3 separate regions of the Homo sapiens genome follow, and all the other regions are linked to region 2. Evidence: fine-mapped expression QTL. A gene starts in region 2. Each other region holds a variant in brackets. All regions are shown on one strand. Distances are from middle to middle. Region 1 overlaps KRT74 (keratin 74). Region 2 holds the start of KRT73 (keratin 73). Region 3 overlaps KRT2 (keratin 2).

Evidence for each region.
Region 1: its variant is fine-mapped to the expression of KRT73 in whole blood (TOPMed, PIP above 0.99).
Region 3: its variant is fine-mapped to the expression of KRT73 in unexposed skin (GTEx, PIP above 0.99).

The regions. Positions count from the first base shown.
Region 1 is chr12:52,557,751-52,565,934 of GRCh38, forward strand. It overlaps KRT74 (keratin 74), which reads right to left. Exons shown (of 9, transcript NM_175053.4): 9 at 8,032-8,184. Among named protein-coding and RNA genes, the nearest start is that of KRT71, 8.7 kb to the left of the region's middle. The variant T/G (reference allele first, on the strand shown) is at 4,221.
Region 2 is chr12:52,615,239-52,623,422 of GRCh38, forward strand. KRT73 (keratin 73) reads right to left here and starts at 3,321. Exons shown (of 9, transcript NM_175068.3): 1 at 2,840-3,321; 2 at 928-1,142; 3 at 41-101. The coding sequence starts at 3,286. KRT73-AS1 (KRT73 antisense RNA 1) reads left to right here. Exons shown (of 3, transcript NR_126005.1): 3 at 1-67.
Region 3 is chr12:52,637,876-52,646,023 of GRCh38, forward strand. KRT2 (keratin 2) reads right to left here. Exons shown (of 9, transcript NM_000423.3): 8 at 7,660-7,694; 9 at 6,683-7,559. The coding sequence ends at 7,144. Among named protein-coding and RNA genes, the nearest start is that of KRT2, 10 kb to the right of the region's middle. The variant G/A (reference allele first, on the strand shown) is at 4,431.

The sequences.
Region 1 (8,184 bases), 57 kb before region 2:
TTTCGGGAGGGAAAAAAGGAGAGACTGAAGGAAACCAGGACAGGGCCACAGCTCACTAGGGGGACTAAACCCCCAATCCCCCCAGTCCCGCTTTAACTGAGATCTGGGAAGATTTAGGGGTGGGAGGAGCCAGCACCCCTGCTTGGGGAGCCCTCTGGCCTGGTGGGGAGGCAGGATCTGAGCTGCCCGTCTGGCTCTGTTTTTCTTTCATGCCCTCCATGGGAGGGGTCTAGCTTTCCACATGAGAATTGAATTCTGAGCAATGTTTGGGCAGGCGTGGACATCTCTGGGCCAGTTATACCCATCTGTGAAACAGTCGGGGGAATGCGTCATATCAGAGGATCAAACCCCTAAGATACCAGGAACATCTGGCTTGGACATTCAAGAAAAAAATTAAATGGCATGTTACATTACATTTGTGTGGCTCTTGGTTTTATAGCCACATGTTTTATTTGGCTTACATGTATAATTTGTAAGTGTCTTTGTATTGTTGTTTCTGTGTCTGTGATCATGACCAGTTTGACACATTTGTGTGTGAACCCATGGCTCTAATTTGTATCTTGCTCTTTCCTCTCAGCACTCTTGGGTCGGATAAGTCTGGAGAGAGAAGACCTCCAAGAGCAGGGCAAGACAACCGAGTACAATATAAGAGGGTAGTTGCTGGGTGAGAGGAAAGGGGAATGCATAGATGTGGGGACACTAAACCTACAAGGGCTGCCTGGAGGATGGAGTTTGGATCCCAGTCTCTTAAGGGAAGAAGGCTTGGATGGACAGGCATGGAGGAATGAGGAAAACTGCCCTGGGTGGCAGAAGGCAGGTCATTTGTGAGGAAAAGACCCACCAGGCTGGAGCAATCATGAATAAAGGACGACTTTGCGGGGGGGGGACTCTGGATGCCAGGCTGTGCACATAATGGGGAGCCATTGAGGGCTACTGAGCCAGGGAGGGCATGAGCAATCCATGTTTGAGGCAGCAGAATCCAGGTGCTATGTGGACAGGGTTGGTGGGGGTGGAGAGAGGCTGGAGGCACCGAGAGAGGGGCAGGTGGTTCTCTGAGCAAATAATTGTCTCCAGAATTAGAGAGAATGAGCTGAGCTATTTGGATGACATCAGCCCAGGTCCTGCCAGCCCTCCTCAGCAGATGAACCCAGGAAATGAGCATGTCATCTATGGATCCCCCAGAAGCCCCCCTCCTGGCACCCCCTCATCTTTCAGTGGTTTCAGATAGGCAGGGTTTTCAGCCCCAGCCAGCCGGATGGAGCGCAGTGCCGGGGGCCTGGCCACAACCCACCATTCATTGGGGGGCAGGACAGCTGGTCAGCATTTTTGCAGCTGCCAAGGCTGAGGGTGTGCCCACCCCAGAGGAGCTGGGATATAAAGGATAGGAAGGCTGTCCTTCCAGGCATGGCTCCCCTCCCATTTTGCCATATTTCTGACAGAGAGGGTCATCTGGGGCTGCCCCTCTCCTCATTTCCTCCTCACTCAGCTCCGTGGCTGGGAGCACCTCCTTTGAGCCATGCTGCAGCCCCACGCCAAGCCTCTAGCGAAGTGCATGGACTTGAGACTCTGAGGACCCAGGTCCCAGTCTTGCCTTGGCCACTCATGAGCCGTGTGACTGTGGGCAGGTCTCTTACCTTCCTAAGCCTCTGTTTTCACATCTCTAAAAGAGGGGGTGCCAACACCTGCTCCACCTACTCCCCAAGGTGGTTGGGAGGCACCTTGTAAATAAGAATAATGGTGACAATGATAATAATAGCAGTGGTTAACACATATACAATGTGAGTGCTGTGAGGCATCCTTCTAAGCGCTTCACATATATTAATTCATTTAATTCTCACAACAGCCCTATGAGGTAGGTGCCATTATTGTCCCCACTTTACAGATGAAGATGCTGAGACACAGGAAGTTAGGCAGCTTACTCAAGAGAGTACTCAACCAGGATTTTTTTTTTTGAGATGGAGTCTCACTCTGTCACCCAGGCTGGAGTGCAGTGGCACGATCTCAGTTCACTGCAACCTCTGCCTCCAAGGTTCAAGCAATTCTCCTGCCTCAGCCTCCCGAGTAGCTGGGATTACAGGTGTGGGCCACCACACCGGGCTAATTTTTGTACTTTTAGAAGAGACAGGGTTTCACCACGTTGGCCAGGCTGGTCTCAAACTCCTGACCTCAAGTGATCCACCCACCTTGGCCTCCCAAAGTGCTGGGATTACAAGTGTGAACCACCAAGCTCAGCACTCAACCAGGATTTGAGCCAAGGTTCAAATACAGGCATGCTGGCTATAGTCTGTGCCCTTAGCCTCCACACCACCCTGGCTTTCTTGAGTACAAATGTCTAGTGCCCCTGCGTGTCCTATTCCCAGGTGAGCATGCCCACCTCTAACCCTCACCAGCTCTGGTCTCTGCTCTCTCCTGTCCCTCCAACACTTGAACCACAGTGTGAAAAGCTGAGCTCATCACTTTCTGTCCCTAATATACCCTCCCACCCCATCAGTGCCCACGCCCTCACTCACCCAGGTGCTCCGCACTCTCAAGAAGTCACCTGCCATCTCTTAAGGCAGTTGCTCTGCATCTATCACCACGGCATGGCCCAGGCTGCCCCTCATCCTCTCCCCTCTGGAATTCTGGCAGCAGCCTCTTGGGTGGTCCTCCTGCCAGCCCACCCTATAAGCCTCTGGTTTCCAGGATTGACATTTCATACACTCCTGTCTTCCTGTCACAACCCTCCAGCCAGCCACATCTGACCCCTCAGTCCCCTTTTCAGCCTTCTTTGCTCTTTTGGAGAAAATAGATGTGATTTCAGGACCTGGGTGAGGATGGGGTTGGGGATGCTTGTGAGGCCCTGACATGTTTCTTACGGGCAGCTTCCTTTTTCCTGATGTCATGCTCTGGGCTATTCTCCCAGCCTCCTGCCTACCAGGCAGGACATAGCTACTCCAAGAAGCCTCCCCTAAGCCCTTCCGAATTCCCCTGGTTTCCACCCCTTCCCTGTCAGGGTCAGGCTGCAGCTTTCTCCTGCTGCTCAGGTTCTGGGCGCATCCCTCCACCCCAAAATGACCAAAGGCTCCAGGGCTTAATGCATGAACTGTGAGCACTGCATGTCTTACCAGCTGACAGACATGTTCCAAGGCATATCAGAAGATGTGTGTGCACATCTGTATGTGAATGGCTGGGAGCAGAACAGGTGTCCAGCCATTATGAACATGGCTGTCCTGGTTGTCCATGGCTGACATCTCTGATTGGTTAGTGCCTGCTTGTACCAGCTGTTAAATGTTTTGCATCTTCCATAGACATCAGCTTTGTGAGCCTGCAGCCTCATGTCTATGCATGCGTACATGGGTTTCTGATGACATTGCACCTGATAATTGCTCCCATCTTCTATTAGCTGTTGCTTTCAGACCCCTGAGTCTCCATTATTCTCCATTAGTGGTTTCTAACAGGGAGCTGATTGTCCCTTTTTCATATATTTTCAATATATTCTTTTTCAATAATAGCCATGACGGGAGGGAGCAATGCAGTGACTCCCAGCTGGTGACCAAGTGAGGGAATCAAATTCATTCATTCATTCATTCAACAGCTCTGAGACCATGAAAGCAGGAGAAGTCATGACAGTTTAGACCTGAAAGAACATCCCTTCCCCAGGGCAGGAGGATGGCCAAGGTGACTTTTCAAGGTCACAGAGGATGGATTTCAATGAGACTTTCTCTACCAATGAACACAGATTACTCAGTTAAAGCCTCCTGCTACACTGAGTTTGGAACCTAGAGAGAATGGTTAGAAAAATCAGAAAATGGGAAGGTCAGAGGCAGAGGGAGAGGCATAGGAAGAAGCTGCAGGAAAGGGTGGATGAGGTCCCAGGACACAGTGCACAGACACTGATTGCCTTGTTCTTTTGCATTCAGTGATCCCATTTGACACTTACTAAGCAGCCTCTCTGTGCCAAGCGTTTACCACATACAGGGATAGAGGAAGACACCAGCCTGCCTTTGAGGACTTCTCAGTCCAGCAGATAGGTCTGCCATTGCAGAGCCTTGTAGGTTTCATTAAATCCCAGGTGGAGAGAAGATTCCAGTAGCAATTGGGTTTTGTGCTCACTTCAACTAATGAACCAAGATACAGTGAGTTTGGGAACTTAAGCAAGATTTTGGGTGTCCACTTAAAATCTTAATCCAAGTCACTGTGCAGAGGCCATGACCCTGACAGAGAAAAAGAAATATTGCAGT[T/G]TTTTGGCCTCAGATGCTTCAACTCAACAGGCATCAGCAAGAGCTATGAGAGCCACTTGAGGGCACTGAGTTGCTCTTCATAACCAAAGTCTGAGACTCAGGTGGTTAGTTAAGCAAGCACTTAATTAGCCGAGAGAGAGCCAGTGGTTGCCCTCAGCTGGGTGTAGCGGCCAAGTGTCAGAGACATGGTCAGCTCTTGGCTATCAGAAGTCCAGCTCCCCCAGGCTTGCCTTGGCCAGTCAAATGAGGGTAAGTAGTGTCTGTCCCCCTGCTGGTCATGGACAACTCTGTCTTTATGCCAGGTTGCTATTTGCCACACGGTAGGGAAGGCAGAGAGCAAAGTCCAGGGATACAGTTTCTCTGACCTTTTCCCTGCTGCACTCCCAAATTTTATTTTATTTTTTATTGGGGTAAGATTCACATAACATAAAATTAACTATTTAAAGTGAACAATTCAGTGGCATTTAGTATGTTCACAATGTTGTGCAACCATAACCTCAATCTAGTTCTAAAACATTGTCATTACCCCGAAAGAAAGCCCTGTGCCTACTAGCAGTCACCCCCATTTCCCCTTCCCCAACTCCTGCAACCACCAATTTGCTTTCCATCTGTATGAATTTACCTATTCTAGACCTTTCATATAAATGAAATTATATAATGTGTGGCTTTTTTTGTTTGGCTTCTTTCTCTTAGCATAATGTTTTTGAGATTCATCCACATTGTAGCACATATCACTGAGTCATTCCTTTTTATGGCTGAATGATATTCCACTGAAAGTATATACCACAGTTTTTTTTGTTTTTTTTTTTTTTCATTCATTGATGGACATTTGAGCTGTTTCCACCTTTGGCTATGGTGAATAGTGCTGCTGTGAATATGCATGTACATGTGTTTGTTTGAGAAACCTGGTTTTAATTTTTTTTTTTTTTTAATGAGACAGGGTCTTGTTCTGCCACCCAGGCTGAAGTGCAGTGGCACAATCACTGCTCACTGCAGCCTTGAACTCCCGGGCCCAAGTGGTCCTCCCAGCTCAGCCTCCCAAGTAGCTGGCACCACAGGCATGCATCACCATACCTAGCTTTTTTTTTCTTTAAGAGACAGGGTCTCCCTATCTCCCTTGCCCTGGGTTGCCCAAGGACAACCTCCCTTGCCCAGGTTGGTCTCAAACTCCTGGGTTCAAGCCGCCCCCCAGCCTTTGCCTCCAAAAGTGCTGGGATTACAGGGATGAGCCACTGGGCTCAGCCATGTTTTCAATTATTTTGGCTTTCTATCTAGGAGTGGAATTGCTGGGTCATATGGCAAATCTGTTTAACTCCTTGAGGAATTGCCAAACTTTTCCACAGTGGCTGAACCAGTTTACATTTCCAACAGTAATGTATGAATGTTCAAATTTCTCCATAATCTCACCACATTCATTATTTTCTGTTATTTTTATTATAAATCATCCTAGTGAGTATAAACTGGTGCCTAGTTATGATTTTGGTTTACATTTCCCTGATGAATAATTATGTTGAGCATCTTTTCCTGTGCTTCTTGGCCATTGTGTATCTTCTAAAGAAAGTTTATTAAAATTACTTGCTCATTTTTTAACTGAGTTGTTTGTTTTTTTTATTGTTGAGTTGCAAGAGTACTTTATATATTCTGGATACTAGACCCTTATCAGCTCTATGATTTTCCAATATTTTCTTTCATTTGGCAGGTTGTCTTTTCACTTTCTTGATAATGTCCCTTACTGTAAAGAAGTTTTTTAACTTTGAGGAAGTCCAATTTATCTAGTTTCTCTTGTGTTGCTTATGCTTTTGATGTCATATCTAAGAATTCATTGCCAAATCAAGGTCACAAAGATTTCCCTCTACATTTTTTCTAAGAGTTTTATGGTTTTAGCTCTTATATTTAGGTTGTTGATTCATTTTGATTAATTTTTGTATATGATGTAAAATAGAGATTCAACCTCATTCTCTGGCATGTGGATACCTCGCTGTCTCAGCACCATTTGTTGAAGAAGCTATTCTTTCCCTTATTGAATGGTCTTGGTACCCGTGTCAAAATGGCCATAACTGTAAATAATTGAAATTAACAATCACCTCTGGTCCTGCCTTCATGATTTCTCCTCTTGGGCTTCAGGGGACTCTGAGTCCAAAAGCAAGAGCACAGTCACTCCTGTGCACCTCTCAGCATCTTCATAATCCCAGATGGCAGAGAATCTCTCCATTTCTCAGGTGGATAAGCTGCAGCCAGAGAGGCTGCTCCTTCTGCCCACCTCAGCACTCTAGTAGAGGACACACTGTATCACATCTGCTTAGCCCTTCATCCCTGCATCCAGAGCCACGTTTGCGTGCAGCCATCACAGCCCAACAGCACCAGCTCAGGTGTGCCCAGTTGTCAGGGGCATGCTGCACAGCAGCCTTGAAAGAAGTGATTTCACGGAGGCTCATGTATTAATACTTCTCCAAATGCTATTTCAGGTTGTGGGTCTCATTCCCTCTCTCACCTCAGGCCCTCTTACTGGGTCCCTCACTGGGAATGTGGTCTTTTGGGAAAGACAGAGCATCAATGCTAGGAAGGGCCTTAAGGGTATCTGGTGCAAAGGCTCTTAACCGGTGGTTCATGACCCAGGGAATCCATGGATGGGCTGTGGGGATCTGTGAACCTCTGGACATGCAGTAGACCCTGTCCACATTTCAGGGGAAAGATCCATGGCTTTCATCAGCTCTCAAAATGTTCATGACTTACAAGGTTAAGAACCACTGTGTGTAACAGGTGACTGGTTAGTGGTAGAGCTAGAATGGAGCCTCCCACTCCCAGGGCACTAGTTCAGTATCCACAGTGGCAGCAGTGGTGACATCAGAGGGAGACATTTGGGCAGAAAGCCCAACACACTCTTGGGCTCTTGTGTTTCCCACGGTTTACTGCACCCTGGCACACACAGAAGAGGACCTCCTTAATACATGAAAGCCACAGGGAGGTGAATGGAGGCCACTACTTAGGCCAGAGTCCCCATCCTCCCAAGGCCTGTCCCCATTATCTTGAGGCCTGTAGAGGTGAACATCTTTGGGCACACCCATGACACAAGACAAATTTGAAAGCTGCTTAGACAGCTAGACTCTGCCGGCCACAGCTGAGGGACTTAGAAATCCACCCAGCCCCACTGCAGATTAAGCATCTCTAATCCAAAAGTCTGAAATCCAAAGTGCTCCAAAACTTTTGGAGCATTTTATTTAAAATTTGTACAAAATTATCTTTAGCCTACGCAGAAGGTATATATGAAACATAAATGAAGTTCATGTTTTGATTTGGGTTCCATCCCCGAAGTATCTCATTATGCACATGCAAACATTTCAAAATCCAAAGTCAGGAATGTTTCTGGTCCCAAGAATTTTGGATAAGGTATACCCAATCTGTATTGACTTTGGAAAATCTGAGATCTCCCACCCCCTACTAAATAAGCACATGAAAGCCTGTGTCCAAACTACTATGTTGCTGTGATTTAAATTCCCTCTCCAGGAGCCCATGTGTCCATCTTTCTGGTTATTTAATTAAACTCTCCTCCTCTTCCAGGAAGCCTTCCTTGCTTAGCCTCTCTATTCCAGTCCCTTACTAGCATTGCTGCCTTAGGCTGCCCTTCCCTGATTTACATGAGTGTGTATCTGTCTCTTCCAGCAGCCTGAGATTGCCTCCAGAGCAGCCTCATCTGAGTTGGCCTGCAGCTTCCCAGCAAGAGTCCTGCACGCTTGCTGGGGAGAAATGGAGGGTGGCACATCATCACTAGAGGGTGGAACATTTGGAAAGATTAACAGACTGACAGAAGCATACCTCTGACAACACTCAAGGACAACTTAATGAATATACAGCAGAAATTCAGAGTCTTTAATTCAAACAAAAGAGGAAATAGATGCTGCCATTCTTAGGAATATTTACACCCTGAGCCACGACATCTGGACTAGGCAGTAGCACTCAGCGACAG
Region 2 (8,184 bases):
ACTGCTGGGGGACTGAAGGGAACCCATGCACCCTCCTCACCTTCTTAAGCACCACAAATTCATTCTCAGCAGTTGTGCGCTTGTTTATTTCTTCTTCATACCTGCAGGGAAAGCATCACAGGAAGCAGAGTGTGTGTCTGTGTGTGTGTGTATACGTTCTCATAGTGAAATGAGAAAAGAGATACCCATATTATATGCCTTTTAAGAGGTATTATTCTATACCTTTGCAAGTCCATCCCAACACACCAGGACTATTTGGCCAGAGTTGGAGGCCGGGTATGAAGTAACCTCCTCCTGAGCCTGGGTGGTTTGAGGTCTGATTTCCTCTGATGCCTGGGGAGTGAGTAGGTTCTTCCTCTTCCCACTCAGTATCTGAATCACAGAAGCATGCCAGCTACCCCTTTCAGCCATGATTCTTGTGTCAATCCTGCTGCCTGACAACCTACCAACAACTCCCCTCCATCCCTAGGCAGGGGTCCCAAGGAAGCCAGAACTATCTCCCAGGGGAGAAAGAAGGCACATGGCCCGTGTCCAGGACCGAAAGGCAATGAGAGAGGAAGCCCAACAGGAACTCCACCTCCTTCCCTGTGGCAGAGAGCAGCGGGTGGGTGGGGGGTGGTTCTTTGGAACTCAGGGGCACAGTGGTGAGCTTAGGAGCCAAGAGGCTGCGGCACACACAATACAGGCTCCCTTGAACAGGGAGCAGGAAGGAGCATGCCAAGGAGGGGATCACCTGCCAGGACAGCCCTGACGCTGCCCAAGAGGCTGGTTGTCCACTGTCTAGTCTGCCTCGTTGCCCATAGAAGGCTCTCATCTTGCTGGGACAGATGAACCCAATACCTCCAAGGCCAGAGGCAAACATCCCAGTGCCTGCTGGGAAAGCCTCACCCTGGGAGGCAGACCAGCCTGGAGTGGCGTCCTGCTCACCTCTTCTTGTAGTCCTCCACCACTTCGCGCACGCTCCTCAGCTCCGAGTCCAGCCTCACCCTGTCCCCAGACAGCGTCTCCAGCTGCTTCCGCAGGTTGCTGATGTAGCCCTCAAGGATGGGCTCCAGGTTATTCTTGCAGTTGTTCAGGTCCAGCTGCTGTAGCAGCTCCCACTTGGTCTCCAGCACCTGGTTCTGCTGCTCCAGGAACCGCACCTGGAACCCATGCCACACATACTTAAGCAATGTGGAGAGGGGATGTGAGAATTCCCTTCCTGGACAGGAACTGTGTTTTCTTATGCTACATTAGCTTTAAAAATGAGCCTCAGCCCTTAAAAACTGCCACCCATGCCACTCACACCCCCACTCCTTACCTAGGGTCCTTTATCTGACTGAAGTTCTCACTCTGAGGCAGCCCTTAAGGTTGGGAGGGGCACCAATGTCTTCATTTCCCTCTCAAACTATCAAGATCTAGATCTCCTGTCTCCTCTGCACTTATCCAAACCTGCCTGGACCGATGTCCATGTTCAGTCCAGGCCACCTCTCCAAGGCAGCCCCTTAGACACAAGCTGGCCTGTGCTAGCCTTCACACTGTCAGGCCTTCTGCTCGGGGTCTGGTGGCCCGTGCTCTGCCTAGTCTCTCCCTCCTTGTGCGTGGGCTCTCCCAGCCCAGCCAGAGGCAGATGTTCAGCTTATCTGGGGTCTCCGGCCCTCCTAAGTTGCTTTCATGTCTGAATCTCTACTATCTCAATCACAGCATTGTCCCAGCAGCAGAACAAGCATTCTCAAGTTGCAACCTACAAATATATCATTCCCTTGCTTAAAACCCTCAGGTGGTTCCACATCACCCTCAGGGTCAAGTCCATATTCCTTATCACACTCTTCATAATGTGCCCAGCCCTCCTGGCTTCCTTCTTTACTCATACAGTGATGTCGTAAACCGAAGGTCTCCCATTCCCCAGACAAGTTCTACCATGCTGCACGTGCTGTCTCCCTAGATTGCCTTTTCCCCACCTCCATCTGAAAACTCCTACTCATGCCTCACCACCCTACCTCACTGTCGCTCCGGGTGAGCTTCCCCTGCTCCTCTAAGCTTAGGAAGTCTCTGCTTCCCAATACCTTCCTACCACTTTGTTCCTCAGTGATTCTCAAACCTGAGTGTACATCAGCATCACCTGGAGAGCTTGTTAAAATGCAGGGTGCTGGGCCCTGCTGCAGAGTCTCTGATTCAGTTGCTCTGGGGTGGAGCCTGAGAGTGTGCATTCTAACAAGCGTCCAGGTGACGTTGCTGCTGCTGGTTCCAGGGCCACCTTTGAGAACCACTGCTCTAGGGCACCGTGACCTCCAGCTGCCTTGCCTCATAGGCTGTGTGTGTTACGGACTGAGTCTGAGCTTTCAGGGGACACAGGAGGAACAGCTGGGTCGCATGGCAGTCTAGATGCCCCAGGCTGTCAAGGGCATCTCCTTCGCCTAGCTTCTAAGTCTCACAGGCTGTCACTCTGCTACTTCTCAACTCAGAGACCGCTCTCATTGCTTCCTGGACACCTTCCTGGGCTAGGCTGCTGGCTCCTCTCACCCCTCCAACCCTGGTCCCTTGCCTCTGATGTCCAGGCTTTGTCCAGTTCCTCCCTGGGCTATGTCTGCATCCTGGGGAGGTGTCCTGCCTTCGTCTGCTTCAGACAGGGAGCACCCCAAGGACAATGAAGGCGGGGGAAGGAAGGGGCTCTACGGCATGAGCAAGCCTTATGGGCCCAGCACCTGGGGAGCTTTCAAGTTGTTTACCTGGTGTCTGATTTTGCTGGGAGAAAATGATTTCTTGCTCTCAGGCAAATTGAACCACAAATTAGGGCAGTGGCTCCCTCCTGAGTCCTTAAAAGGGGAGCCCAAGATCAGCTTTCTCCAGAAAGACCCACCTTGTCAATGAAGGAGGCGAACTTGTTGTTCAGCACCTTGATCTGCTCCCGCTCCTGGGCACGCACTTTCTGGATTTCAGGGTCCAGCTCCACGTTCAGGGGTGCCAGGAGGCTCTTGTTGATGGTGACCTGATGGATACCCCCGGGCGGGCACAACGACGGACACACGGACCCCAAGGCCACACTGCCAAACATGCTGCCAGCAAAGCCACTGGCCCGGCCCCGGCCAAATCCATAGCCTCCTGCCCACCCACTGCCACTGGCCACATTGAAAGAGATGCTCCGGGCACCCCCCAGGCTGTAAAGGCTCCGACTGCTGAAGCCTCCACTGAGCCCTTTGCCCCCTGCTCGGTAGGAGGATGAGCTGCCCCCTGAGAGCACAGCGGAGCAGCCGCTGAAGCCCCCCTTGGCAGCAGCTCCCGACTTGTAGGTGAATTGGCGGCTCATGGTGGGGAGGCCAGAAAGTGGGGATAAGATGCTGACCCTTAGCTGAGATGCAGTTCACCAGCCTGTGATCCTGGGCTCCCACTTTATAGGACTCAAGAGGGAGCCATGGGCCTAATTTGTGGGTTCAGTTTGCCTGGAAGCAAGAAATCATTTTCTCCCAGCAAAATCAGACACCAGGTAAATGACTTGAAAACTCCCAAAGTGCTAGTCTTGCAAGTCTTGCTCATGTAATTTGAGTTTTATCTAATGAACATGTGTAATTAGCATGGGCACATTATCCATAGAAAGATCTTAGGTGGGAGGTTTGTCGCAGTCTCAATTGCTGTTCCCCAGGGAGTGGTGGGGCCTGGGATTGTAGGGGTACAGAGGGGAGACCTTTAATTGACAGTGTCATCTGTTAGAAATCTCACAACCATGCCAGCATCAGATGGGCTGCTTCAGGGACCCTGGCTGAGCTGCTTTTATGTGGTTAAGAAGAGGCTGCTGCTGCCTGGCTTCCCAGAGTTCCTGGAGACAGGTTTGATGGCTGGCCAGGGCCATAGGAGAGGAGCACACTGGGAATCCAGGACCAGCCTCTGGCTGCCAGCCCCCTGCTGTGCCCTCCCAGGCAGCTCTCCTGCTCCTCTGTGCCAGCCGGGCTGCCCTGCTCACCTTCCTTTGCACACACTGACTTCTTTTTCCCTTTACCATCCCACTACCCTGACTCTTGACCTTGAAATTATGGTCATTGCACCATTCACGATGGCTGACACTGGTGCAGCACTTTACAGTGTAACAGAGCTCCTCACACAAGAAGCTCATTTAATCCACTTAGTCTGCATGGAGGGGAATGGTGATGATCCACATTACACAAATGGGGAAACCAAGGTTCAGATAATTGAGGATGTCATTCCTTTAGCAAACATTTAGTGAGTCCTTTCTTTGTGTGAATCCCAGAGAATGAAAATGCCCCCAAAAAGCACAGGCCCCAGCCTTGAGGACTCCCTTGGCTGGTCTTCTGACTCCACATTCAGAGCTATGCCCGCCTTATTCATTCGTCCATCTATCCGTCCAACCAGCCAGCCAGCCATCTACTTGTTCATTCATTTATCCATTCGTTTAACAGACTTCTCTTGAGGGCTGACTCTCTCCCAGGTACTGTGCTAGGCTCTTGGGTCCCGAATTATGAAGACCAAACCTAGCTCACAATTTTGGAGATGGGGAGGTAGGGGAAGACATTTGAATTTCATGGATCCTTGACATTGCCAAAGTATGTGACCCAAGAGTTTCCCAAATCCCAAATCCCAAATATATCCATAGTATAGAATTTCCTCCATAAAAACACAAGTATTTCACTAGCTGGAGTACTTGAATGAACAGTTGGCCCATCCTTCTTTTCTATTTCTGTATAGAGGTTATGATATGCCTCTAAAATTGTTGTACTAAGCAATTGCCAAATTCAACCTCCCCTCTGTTTTATACAATATGGTTGTTTTCTAGTTAAGAATAATCATTTTCTTTGATGTCTTCAATTTCACTAAAGGCAATGCCACTTGGAAGTCCTTTAATCTTTTTTAGCTAACATGAAGTTCTATTCCTTTTTTTCTTTTTTTTTTTTTTTTTTTTTGAGATGGCGTTTCACTCTTCTTGCCCAGGCTGGAGTGCAATAGCATGATCTCGGCTCATCGCAACCTCCACTTCCTGGGTTCAAGGGATTCTCCTGCCTCAGCCTCCTGAGTAGCTGGGATGCAACACCACGCCCGGCTAATTTTGTATTTCTAGTAGAAATGGGGTTTCTCCATATTGGTCAGGCTGGTCTCGGTCTCCCAACCTCAGGTGATCTGCCCGCCTCAGTCTCTCGAAGTGCTGGGATTACAGGCGTGAGCCACCGCACCTGACCCAAAGTTTCTATTCCTTTGTAAGTTTCTTTGTAAGGCACAAAGAAGACCAACAAAACTGCATTGTGATGAGAATGCTTAGTATTCCAGCCAGAATCACTCCCTAATTGGCTCATTTCAGCACACCAGCACTGGGGTGGAGGTGATTCAGGCCTGCATCTCAGCAAAACTACAAATTGCTGCATGTCACAGGCCCTGAGATAACCCCCAATGGCATTTATGCTGTGAATGCCAACTCTGCAGTATGGCGTGGATGTGCTTACGAGCAAACAGCCCCTCTCCTTATGGTTTTCACTTCCCCTCCCCTCCCTGGCCTTCTCATCTTGTGAACCTGCCACAGAGGCACTTCCGGAAACCTTCTCTGATCACTTTCCTAATCCAATCACACCTCTCTTCCCAGCCTCCCACATGTTGTTTGTTGTCCAAACAACAGCATCTATTATGTCAATTGTCTCTTCTAATTTGATGTCTCTACCTGTGTTCAGGAGGTATGTCAATCTTTCCTAACGGCCAGAAATTTTCCTGAGGACAAGATCCAGGTCCTATCCTCCCTTTGGTCCTCTCTACTCACTTCCCAGAACTCCAGTGGCAAAGGACTCTCAGGCAGTCATGGACTAGGCTAAAAAACTCTTAGGTGCCCTTTGAAATCATTCTCCCTAAGAACAGTATCCCTAGCACCTGTCATTGAAATGCCTCTAAGTGGGTTTTCACACAGTGAGCTCCTTATATTTCACATCCCTTATATTGCCCTCACCAGGGGAAACTCAATGCCAGATGAACCCAATTACCAAGTCAGCCCCACTTCCCACAGTGGGGCTGTCCTGCCATTAGCCTCTGCCCAGACACTAGGGCAAGAGTTTCTGATGGTTTCAGAAAAGAGAGAAAGAAAGGGGGGGGGGGGGAGAGAGAAAGAGAGAGAGAGACAGGCAGGAAATCAACTTTCTGTCACCCCCAGGGGCAATCAAATAAATATTGTGAAATCAGTATTCCCTATGTGGATATTCCACAACTAGAAAGATGAAGTAGACATACTTTTCCCTTCTTCACAAACATAAGAAGACTCTGAAGCGTAGAGAAGAAGGCACACCAACAGGGACCTCAGGACCCAGTGAAAGACATGATGATTATTTCTCTAGGTTTTCTATTTGTCTCCTATATTCCAGACTTGGGGCAGAAGAAGGCAGGAATCTGGAAAGGCTCAGATTTTTAAAGATTAAACAAAAGCTTGATCTCTGTAGCCACATCATCAGGAAAGGGGCAGCCTAGCAAGATGGAAAACTTACAGAGAATAATCACTCTATTCCATCTCAACACACAGAAAATACTATGGTTTCACCTACACCCACATCAGCAAAAGCTGAGTGTGAGGCCTAGACCTTCACACTCACCAGGCTATAATGAGGTGCCCCAACTGCCCCCTCCCCCAGCAGTTAGATGGAATCAGGGAAGTCCAAGAAAGAAGCCGGGATTCCATCCCCACCAGGAGGTAACAAGTGCCTGACCCACTTGGTACCAGTGGAGACCATGTGGGGAGCCCAGACTTCCACCCTCACCTGGCAATAACAAGGTAGCATCCACACCCTTTCCCCTGCAAGGACAATGTCAGAAGAAGGCAGCCAAAACAGAAGATTTAAACAATATCCAGAATCTCATAATAGTACCAAAATGTCCAAATGTTTATTTAAAAAATCACTCATTGTGCCAAGAACAAGGAAGTCCTCAAATTGAATGAAAAAAAAAGACGATTGATAGATGCCAATACTTAGATGACAAAGTTGTTAAAATTATCTGACAAAGATTTCAAAGCAGCCACAATAAACATGCTTAAATGAACAACTAAGAACATGCTAAATAGATGACAAATTAGACAGTTTCAACAAAGAAATTTAAAAACCAGAAGAACTAAATGAAAGTTTTATTTATTTTTTATTTTTTTATAAACATCCCCAACTTGCTTGTTTTATTGGAGAAGAGGACATGGAATAAACATCTGGGATGTGAGTCTGGGAAGAACCCCCTCTCCTCCCCATATATGCCTACTGCCCCAAACTAAAAATAACCAACTCTGGGAGAGCAGCTGAGACAGCAACTGGGGGCAGAAGAAGGAGACACGGAACTGGAGGGCAGTGGTGAAGAGACCACACGTGTGCTGGGAGGGCCCAGAGGCAGTGACAGCATGAACAGTGCAAGTACAAGTCTCTGTGCCTTCCCTGGGGTTGTGTATAAATATATAGAAATGAGGCCTTCTATCCCATTTCTCTCCCTTCCGCTCCTTGCTGCCTGCCACAGTCCCAGCTCCTCTTTCCACACGAGGGCGAAGGGAAGTGGAGGATGAACAAGTCATCACTGAATTGCGATCAGACCCACATCCATCAGCTTCTGGATCTTTAAATGGAAGTTTTAGAACTAAGAAATATAATAATCAAAATAAAAAACTCAATGGATACACGTAACAGGAGAATAAAAGGCCAGAGGAAAGAATCAGTGAACTGGAAGAGAGGACAATAAAAATTACCCAATCTGAATAATAAAGAGAACTGAACAACAGACTGAAGAAGAATAAAATGAACCAAGTCTCAGGATCAGGGAGACTCTAACAAAAGATCTAACAGTCAAGTCACTGGGGTTCAGAAGGAAAGGAAAAGAAGTATTGCTGAAAAATAACTCAAAGAAATAAGGAATAAAAATTCCCCAAATTTGGCAAAAGACGTAAACCCACAGATTCAGGAAGCTGAGCAAACCCTAAACAGAATAAACCCAAAGAAATTCATACCTAGACATATTATAGTCAGAATTCTGAAAACTACAAATAAAAACCTGAAAGCAGCTAAAGAGAAACAATGCTTTACCTTTAGGGAAAAAACAATTTGAAGGACAGAAGATTTCTCATCATAAACTATGGAGGCTAGCAGGGAGTGGCATAGTTTTCAAGTGCTGAAAGCAAAGAACTGTTGATGCAGAATTCAGTGCCCAGTAAAAATATCCTTCAGGAATGAAGACAAAATGAAAACATTCTCAGAT
Region 3 (8,148 bases), 23 kb after region 2:
CCGAGGCAGACAGATCACGAAATCAAGAGATCGAGACCATCCTGGCCAATATGATGAAACCTCTTCTCTAATAAAAATACAAAAATTAGCTGGGCATGGTGGCACATGCCTGTAGTCCCAGTTACTCAAGAAGCTGAAGTAAGAGAATCACTTGAACCTGGGAGGCGGAGGTTGCAGTGAGCCAAGATTGTGCCACTGTACTCCAGCATGACAACAGAGCAAGACTTCATCTCAAAAAAAATAAATAAATAATAATAATAATAATAATAATATAGCATGACCAAATGGAGTTTATTCCAGGAATACAAGATTAATTTAACATTTGAAAATTAATCAATGAAATTCACTATATTAACAGAATGAGGGAGAAAAGTTATATGATCATCTGAATGTTGAAAAGTATTTGAAAAAAATCAATGTTCACTCAAGATAAAAACACCCAGTACACTGGGAGTATAGGGAAACTTCCTGAACTTGCCCATCTAACCAAACAAACAAATTTTAAAAATGCTTACATTTAATATTATAGACAATGGTGAAGAAAAATAAACGTTTCCCTCCAAGATTAGGGAAAAGGGAAGGATGGCAACTCTTGCTGCCCCCATTCAATATTGCTCTGAAGATCCTAGCCAGACCAATGAGGGGAAATAAACAATAGCAAACAGTTTGGAGAGGAGAAGTCAAAATCATCTTTATTCATAGACAACATAATTATGTACATACAGAATCCTAAGGAATCTACAAAATAACTAGTAGAAGTGACAAATGAATTTAGCATGCTCACAAGAAACAAGGCCAGTTTTTAAAACTGTGCTTCCATATATGAGCAAGGAGCAAATAACAAATTAAAATTTTTAAATACCACTTGTAATAGCATGAAAACATGAAATACTTAGAGATAAATTTAACAAAACATATGTAAGACCTGTACGCTGAAAACTGTGACACACTGATGAGAAAAATTAAAGAAGACCTAAAGCAATGGAGAGAGGTACTATGTTCATAGACTGAAAGACTCAAGATACTTAAAATGCCAATTCTCCCCAAACTGACCTATTGATTCAACATCATTTCAATTAAAACCCAGCAGTATTTCCTGATAGAAACTTACAAGCTGATACTAAACTTTATACTCAAATTCAAAAATTCAATCCCATATAATTTTTTAAAAGAATAAGAAAATCAGAGGTATTATACTAGCTTATTTCAAGACTGATTCAAGCCACCATATCAATACTGTATGTTAGAAGTGTTTCACAGATACATTAATCAACAGAATAAAGAATCCAAAAACAGACCCACACATATGTCTCCATTGATATTTGACAAAGTTGCCAAGGTAGTTCAACAAGTAAACAATAGTCTTTTGAACAACTGGTGCCCAAACAACTGGATATTTACTTGGGGGAATAAAATGAACTTGGACCCTTACCTTAGACCATACCCCAATGGCCACTTAAAATGGGGTATAGACAATGTAAACACTAGAATTATAAAACTTCTAGGATAAAAGTTTGTATTGTAGGAGAAAATGTTTGTGACCATTAGGTAAGCAAAGATTTCTTAAGACACCAAAAGTCCAAACTATAAAGAAAATTTGATAAATTAGAATTAATCAATATTAGAAAATTCTGCTGCTTGTAAGATGCCATTAAGAAAATGACAAGAAAATCCACACACTGAGTGAAAATATTGACAATACATATACCTGACAAATGACTGTTATCCAGAGTATATAAAGAACTCCTGCAACTATGTATGTCAAACTGCCCAATAAAAACTTTCACAAGATTTGGACAGACCTTTCCTAAAACATGTACAAACGCCCAATAAGAACCAAAAAAAGACACTGCACATCACAAGTCATCAGGAAAATGCCATTAAAACTACAAAGAGATAACATGCACACCCTGTAGAATGAAAAAGACTGGCAATGCCCAGTGTTGGAGAGGAGGTACATCAACCCTAAGAAATCCTAGAATAGGCAAAACCAGTCAGTGGTATCGACAAGGAGATCAAAAGTTGGCTGGGGGCATAGGGTAACTCATTGGAGTAGTGGAAATCTTCTATATAAGTATTGTGATAGAGGTTATAAGGATGTATACATTTGTTTAAAAATATTGAGGTATATGCTTAAAATGTAATACAATGCATTTTCTTATTTATAAGTGAATCCTCATTAAAGTTGACTTTAAAATAAACAGCATGCACATTCGAATGTGATCTGTAGTAAATTTTAATTTACTGGAGTTCAACAATGCATTAGATTAACTCAGCGTTCTGCACTTTGAACTACAGCTTCCCCTGCCATCTATCTTTCAATGGAAAGTAATCAGAAATTTCAAGTCTAATTAGTTACAAATATCATTACCATTTACACCCATCTATCTGTATAAATCAAGATTTTCTCAATACAGAAATATGTTGACTAATAAGATACCTTTGGATTTTCTACATATGCAATCACATCATATATTAATAAATCAGTTTTATTTCTTTCTTCCTATCTGTAGGATTTTATTTATTTTTCTTGCATTATTGCACTATTTAGGAATCCCAGTACGATGCTGAATAGGAGTAGTGACAGCAAATACGCTTGCTTGTTCCCAAGAAATGCTTGTGGGAAAAGCATTGACTTTCACCATTAAGTATGTTAGCCATGGGTTTTTACAGATGCCCTTTATCAGGCTAACGAAGTTCCCTTCTACTCCTAGTTTAAGAATCTGTTGTTGTTGTTGTTGTTTTTGTTTGTTTGTTTGTTTTTACCATGGAGGGTGTTGAATTTTGTCAAATGTTTTGTATCTATTGATACAGTCTTATGTTTTTTTCTTCTATGTCAATATGGTGAATACATTAATTCTTTGAATGTTGAGCAAGCTTTTTATTTCTGGGATACATTTTAAACATATACCTCACTATTTTTAAACAATATTTTTAAACACATGGTCATGATGTATTATCCTTTTTATATCTTTCTAGATTGAATTTGCTCATATCTTGCTGATAATTTTTGAATATATATATATATATATATATATATATATATATATATATCCATGAGGGATTTGTTCTTTAGTTTCTTCCATTAATGCTGGCCTTATAAAACAAGATGGAAGGTGTTTCTTCTTCCATCTTCTGAAACAGTTCGTGCAGAATTGTTATTACTCTTTAATTAATCCCACCTATCTGCCAGTGCCTGGATATAAAGTTATCTCATCCATGAGGTCTTCTCCGGTCCCAAAATACTGCCTGTAACTTACAATAATAATAATAATGTAACCTACAGTACTGCATGCTTATGATGGCACAGGTCCTACAGAATAAACATTTATCATTGATTTCAGTGTGTAAACCTCCAGCAATCCTCTGAGGAAGCTGTTGTTGCTACCTGTTTACAAATGAGTAAAGAAAGGCTCAGAGTTGTTAAATAACTTGCCCAGGGTCACACATTCTTTTATCTGATCATCAACTTTTCATTTAGTGCCTACTAAATTCCAAGGTGCCAGCAACTGAGCCCACCCCAGAGCCCGCTCCCTTAGCATGTCCATCAGTGCTTTCCAAACCATGGCCCTTGTGTCACCAGCATCAGAATCACCTAGGAGGTTGTTAAAAATGCAGATTTCTAGACTCCTCTGTAGTGGAAACTCAGGGAGAAGGAGGGGATGCTGGAACAAAGAATATGTATTTTTAGTAAGGGCCGCTTAATGAAATTAATGCACACTACTACATTCTGCCTTATGTTAATAGCTGTTTGCAAATTTCTCATTCTTCCCCTACTAGACCATAAATCCCTGACAGGACGCACTGTCTTATAAGTCTTGATACGCCCACGTAGCCACATGCACAACCTTGCCCACAGTCATTGTCCAACAGGCATTTACTGAACTAGAATGAAAACCACTTTGAGCTTCACATGCTCACACCTATTCACAAAGGGTCTCTCTGGATATCCTGACAGTGTCCCAAATCCCCTGTTGGGCTGAAAGGCTTTAGGAGTAAGCACTGGCTGACCCGGTAGCACAGACAGGGTTCTTTTCATCAGAGCTGGAAGGATCTGTAGAAACAATCTTGGCCACTGAAAGTCCTTAAAGTGAGGCAGAAATTGAGCCAAGAGAGGAGAAAGGACTTGCCCAGTGTCACGCAACAGTTCCCACAAAGATGAGGATCAGCATTGAAGTCTCCTCACTCCCAGGGCACTCCTTCCCCACTTCACAGCAAGAAAAGGAGGCAGGAGTGTTCCATTTAGGTGGGCTTCCTGGAGGAGGTGAGCTGTCCTGAAGGAGGTGAAATGTCCAAAGGAATTTCCTTTCAAATGACAGGAAAGAAAGAATTTGGTGAGGAAGAGAAAAAGGGTTTATTTGAATTCATACTAAAACTCACAGGCAGAGAAAGGGAGGGAACCACAAGAGGGAGGATGTCCCAAATATTCT[G/A]CAACATCATCAGAACGGAAATGTTTAACCCAGTTCCCTATGGAAATCGAGCTCGTAAAACCCTTCTGCCTGTGCCTGTCTCCTTTTTGAAGCCCAGGACCTGACAAGTCAATTACCAAATTTGGTGGAGGAGCAGCAGAGGGCCCTGGTGGGAGGGTGTGGCCCAGATTCTGGGCTACTCTACACTTCGGAGGGAAAGGAGGGTCCCTCTCCAGAGGTAGCCCCTCTCTCCAATACCTGCTTAGAGCTTGATTTCTGTCACGCCTCAGGCCTGGGTCCCTCTGAGTTAATGTACAAGGCTAATTTTACTACTGGAGTCCAGCAAGAAAGTAGCATATATATGATCTGGAAACCAGAAGGGCTGTGTCTCAGGTGGGGAAGGGATGGGGAACTGGAAACGATAGAAGGAGCTAGAGGTTCAGACCACTGAAAGTCTCAAGAATTAAGGCCGGGTGCAGTGGCTCACGCCTGTGATCCCAGCACTTTGGAAGGCTGAGGCAGGCAGATCACTTGAGGTCAGGAATTCGAGACCAGCCTGGGCAACATGGTAAAACGCCGTCTCTACCAAAAATACAAAAATTAGATAGGCATGGTGGTGCATGTCTGTAATCCCAGCTACTCGGGAGGCTGAGGCATGAGAATCACTTGAGCCGGGAGGCGGAGTTTGCAGTGAGCTGAGATCATGCCACTGCACTCCAGCCTGGGCAACAGAGTGAGACTCCATCTCAAAAAAAAAAAAAATAGAATTAAGGCTCCCCTGGGAATAAATCTGCCACCTTACCTGCCTCACCTCTTTTCCCCTCAGAAAGTTATTAGAATGGATTGCTATTCCCAAAGCCTTTTAAAAAATGAATAAATTGGGAGTGGGAGACCTGGTTTCTGTGTCCACCCTGGGCCTTACCTTTTTCCTCACCTAAGTGAAAAGTTCAAATACACTGATTACCAAAGCTCCTGTCCAGCCTCAAATGTCTGGGACCAAGTCCCTGTTAAAGGTTGTGTTCATGTCTACACTATGTACATACCCGAAAACAGCCAGCTCCTCACACCACTTCTTCCCAACCTGCACCCTCTCCCCACAGACCTCTCCCCACGACTGAGGCCTGGGTGGTTCTCAGGGACCTTCTCTGATCAGCGGATCACTTTAGAATGCTCAGCCTGGAGTCTTGCCACCTTGCCACCTGCAGCCTTCAGAGCTGTTCCTGCAGCACCCTCATACCTGGGTCCTGGCTGGTCTGGAGGCAAGTGAATGCATCTGTTCTCTATTAGAGCCGTCCCTGCAACCTCTGGGAACAGGAAGACGGTCACAGACTCAACTAAGGACTCTCCAAGGTTTTAAAGCTGGGGTGGAGTGGGAGAAAAAAGGACCCTCCAGGAGTGGTTCTGAGTGGCTTTAAGCCACAGCTACTATAACCAAACGCCACATACAGAAAGCTAAGCTGACCTAGCCTGAGCCACCAACTCCCATTTGGGCAACTCTGGCCTGTCTAACACCAACCCCAAGCATGCCCAATCCCACCTGCCCAACCATTCCTGAACTCCCTGGAAGCCCTGCTCAGGTGACATGGCCTTCCTGAGGAAGGGGCTGAAGGCATCTTCACACCCACAGGAGAAGGCCAACCTGATGGCAACATCCATGCGACAGGCCCCGGGGGCTGCGGTGAGAGAGGAGAGAAGGGCTTGTTTGCTGAGTGTGGTGGGACTCCGCTGACAGGAGGGGTGTCCTGTGAAAATAGAAGTGGCTGTTTTGGAGGCCACTTTAGAGTCCTCCAGACTCTTCCCAGGTATCCTCCTCCAGGCTTGCTCAGAGCCCCCGCAGAGACAGAGGCCAGGACCTACATCAGGCTGAGGAAGGTCTGCCTTGGAAGCTCGGAGCTTGGAAACTCACCACGATGGTGCCAGGGGCTCAGCGGTTTTGCCCTGAGGAGAAGTGATCCCGGGCCAAAGCCTTTGTGGAAAAGGGAGAGGGCAGTCTGTGGGAAATGCTCAGGAAGAATGGGTTTTTCTAGAAAAGAGACTCTTCCACAAATCTACCTGTCCACCTCCCGGCAATGCCATGGCCCTCAAGTCTGGTAAATACTTTCTGAGAACCACACACCCATCCCCAGGCTCCCATTCATCCAGAGGCTGGCGCCTGGGCTTCCCTCAGGGAGGCACGCTCCTCACCCAGGAGCCCCTCCTTAATGCCCAAACCTCCCTTGTCCATGGCTGCCCACTTCCACCAAGGTTTGACATCACGCAGACAGCACATGATATGAATTGCAAATGAGGTTTATTATGAAGACCCCCAGACCACAGCACTTCCGAAAGCAGAGTGGACAAGAGGAGCTATATACACAGAAACACATTTCCCCCCAGCACTGCCAGGCTTAGAGATGAAATCCCTGGATGGGCCTGGGTCCTCAACAGAATACACATCTGGAAAATGGGCAATGCAAAGAGGCATGGTGGGGGCGGGAATGGGCATGGCTAGAAGCACAAACCTAGACAGCACAGATTCCGCCCCAGAACACAGAGGCGTCACTGGCTCTAACTAACTGGTTTGGAGAGAAGATCTTTCAAAAACTGTATGTGGACATTCTTTTCCCTCAAAGTGCCATCAGAGATAAATGACAAAAATTTAACTTGCTGCCAGTTAGAGGTACAGAGACAGGCTTCTACATTCTGGAGTGGGAGAGTCTGGGTTGGGAGAGTCGGTGGTGGTGGGGGCTCATCTTTATCTAAAAGAGAAGGTCACGCTGGAACCAAAAGCTTCACCTGAGCTACCCTTTACAGAGCTAGAACCCCCACCTCCAGAGCCATATCCTCCTCCAGAGCTGGAGCCTCCTCTAGAGCCACCTCCAGAGCTGTGTTTTCCACCTCCAGAGCCATATCCTCCTCCAGAGATGGACCCTCCCTTAGAGCCACCACCAGATCCGTATCTTCCTCCAGAACCACCGCCAGAGCCATATCCTCCTCCAGAGATAGAACCTCCTCCTCCACTACCGCCTCTGGAGCCAGACTGTCGGCCTCCAGAGCCATAACTGCTGCTTCCAGAGCTGTATCCTCCTCCGGAACTGGACCCTCTACCTCCAGAACCTCCAAAGGCAGCCTTGGATGCCACATTTGATGAAATGGTGCTGCTTGTCACAGCTGCAGAGAGAGGTGGTGTTACCACAGAGATTATGACTGCCTCTCCCTGCCTCCACCTGACACAACACCCCATGGAACAGGACCACACCCCATTACTTACACACAGTCACATTGCTGCTGAGGTCTCCAGACATCCTGTAAGGGAGAGAGAAAAAACAAGTTGTGGTGGAACACTTAGGTTCTGTATGCATGTTGTTTTACCACTTCCACCCGCAAATGTGCAGTTTAGCCTCTCTAAGCAGCCACCAGGGCTTACACACCCCACTTTCTTCTATGCTGCCAGGTCACACAATGACGACAGACCCCCTTCCATTTATGCACAACCTTGCATGTCAATCCCTCTCAATTTTTGCTCTGATAAAAAATGAACAGTTGCGTGGTTGATCCAAGGTCACTGAAAAGCAAATTCACTTCCTACTTTGCAACCCATTTGTGTATTTAAATCCATCTTGGAGAGTCTGTTATTCAGAATCCATGCCACATCAGAAATTATACAATGAGGCTGCCTGTGAACATTCAGTTCAGAAAGAACTGTGACTCTGTAGAGCCTCCCCATTCCTCTCTTCTTCCCACCCTCTTCAGCTTCAAC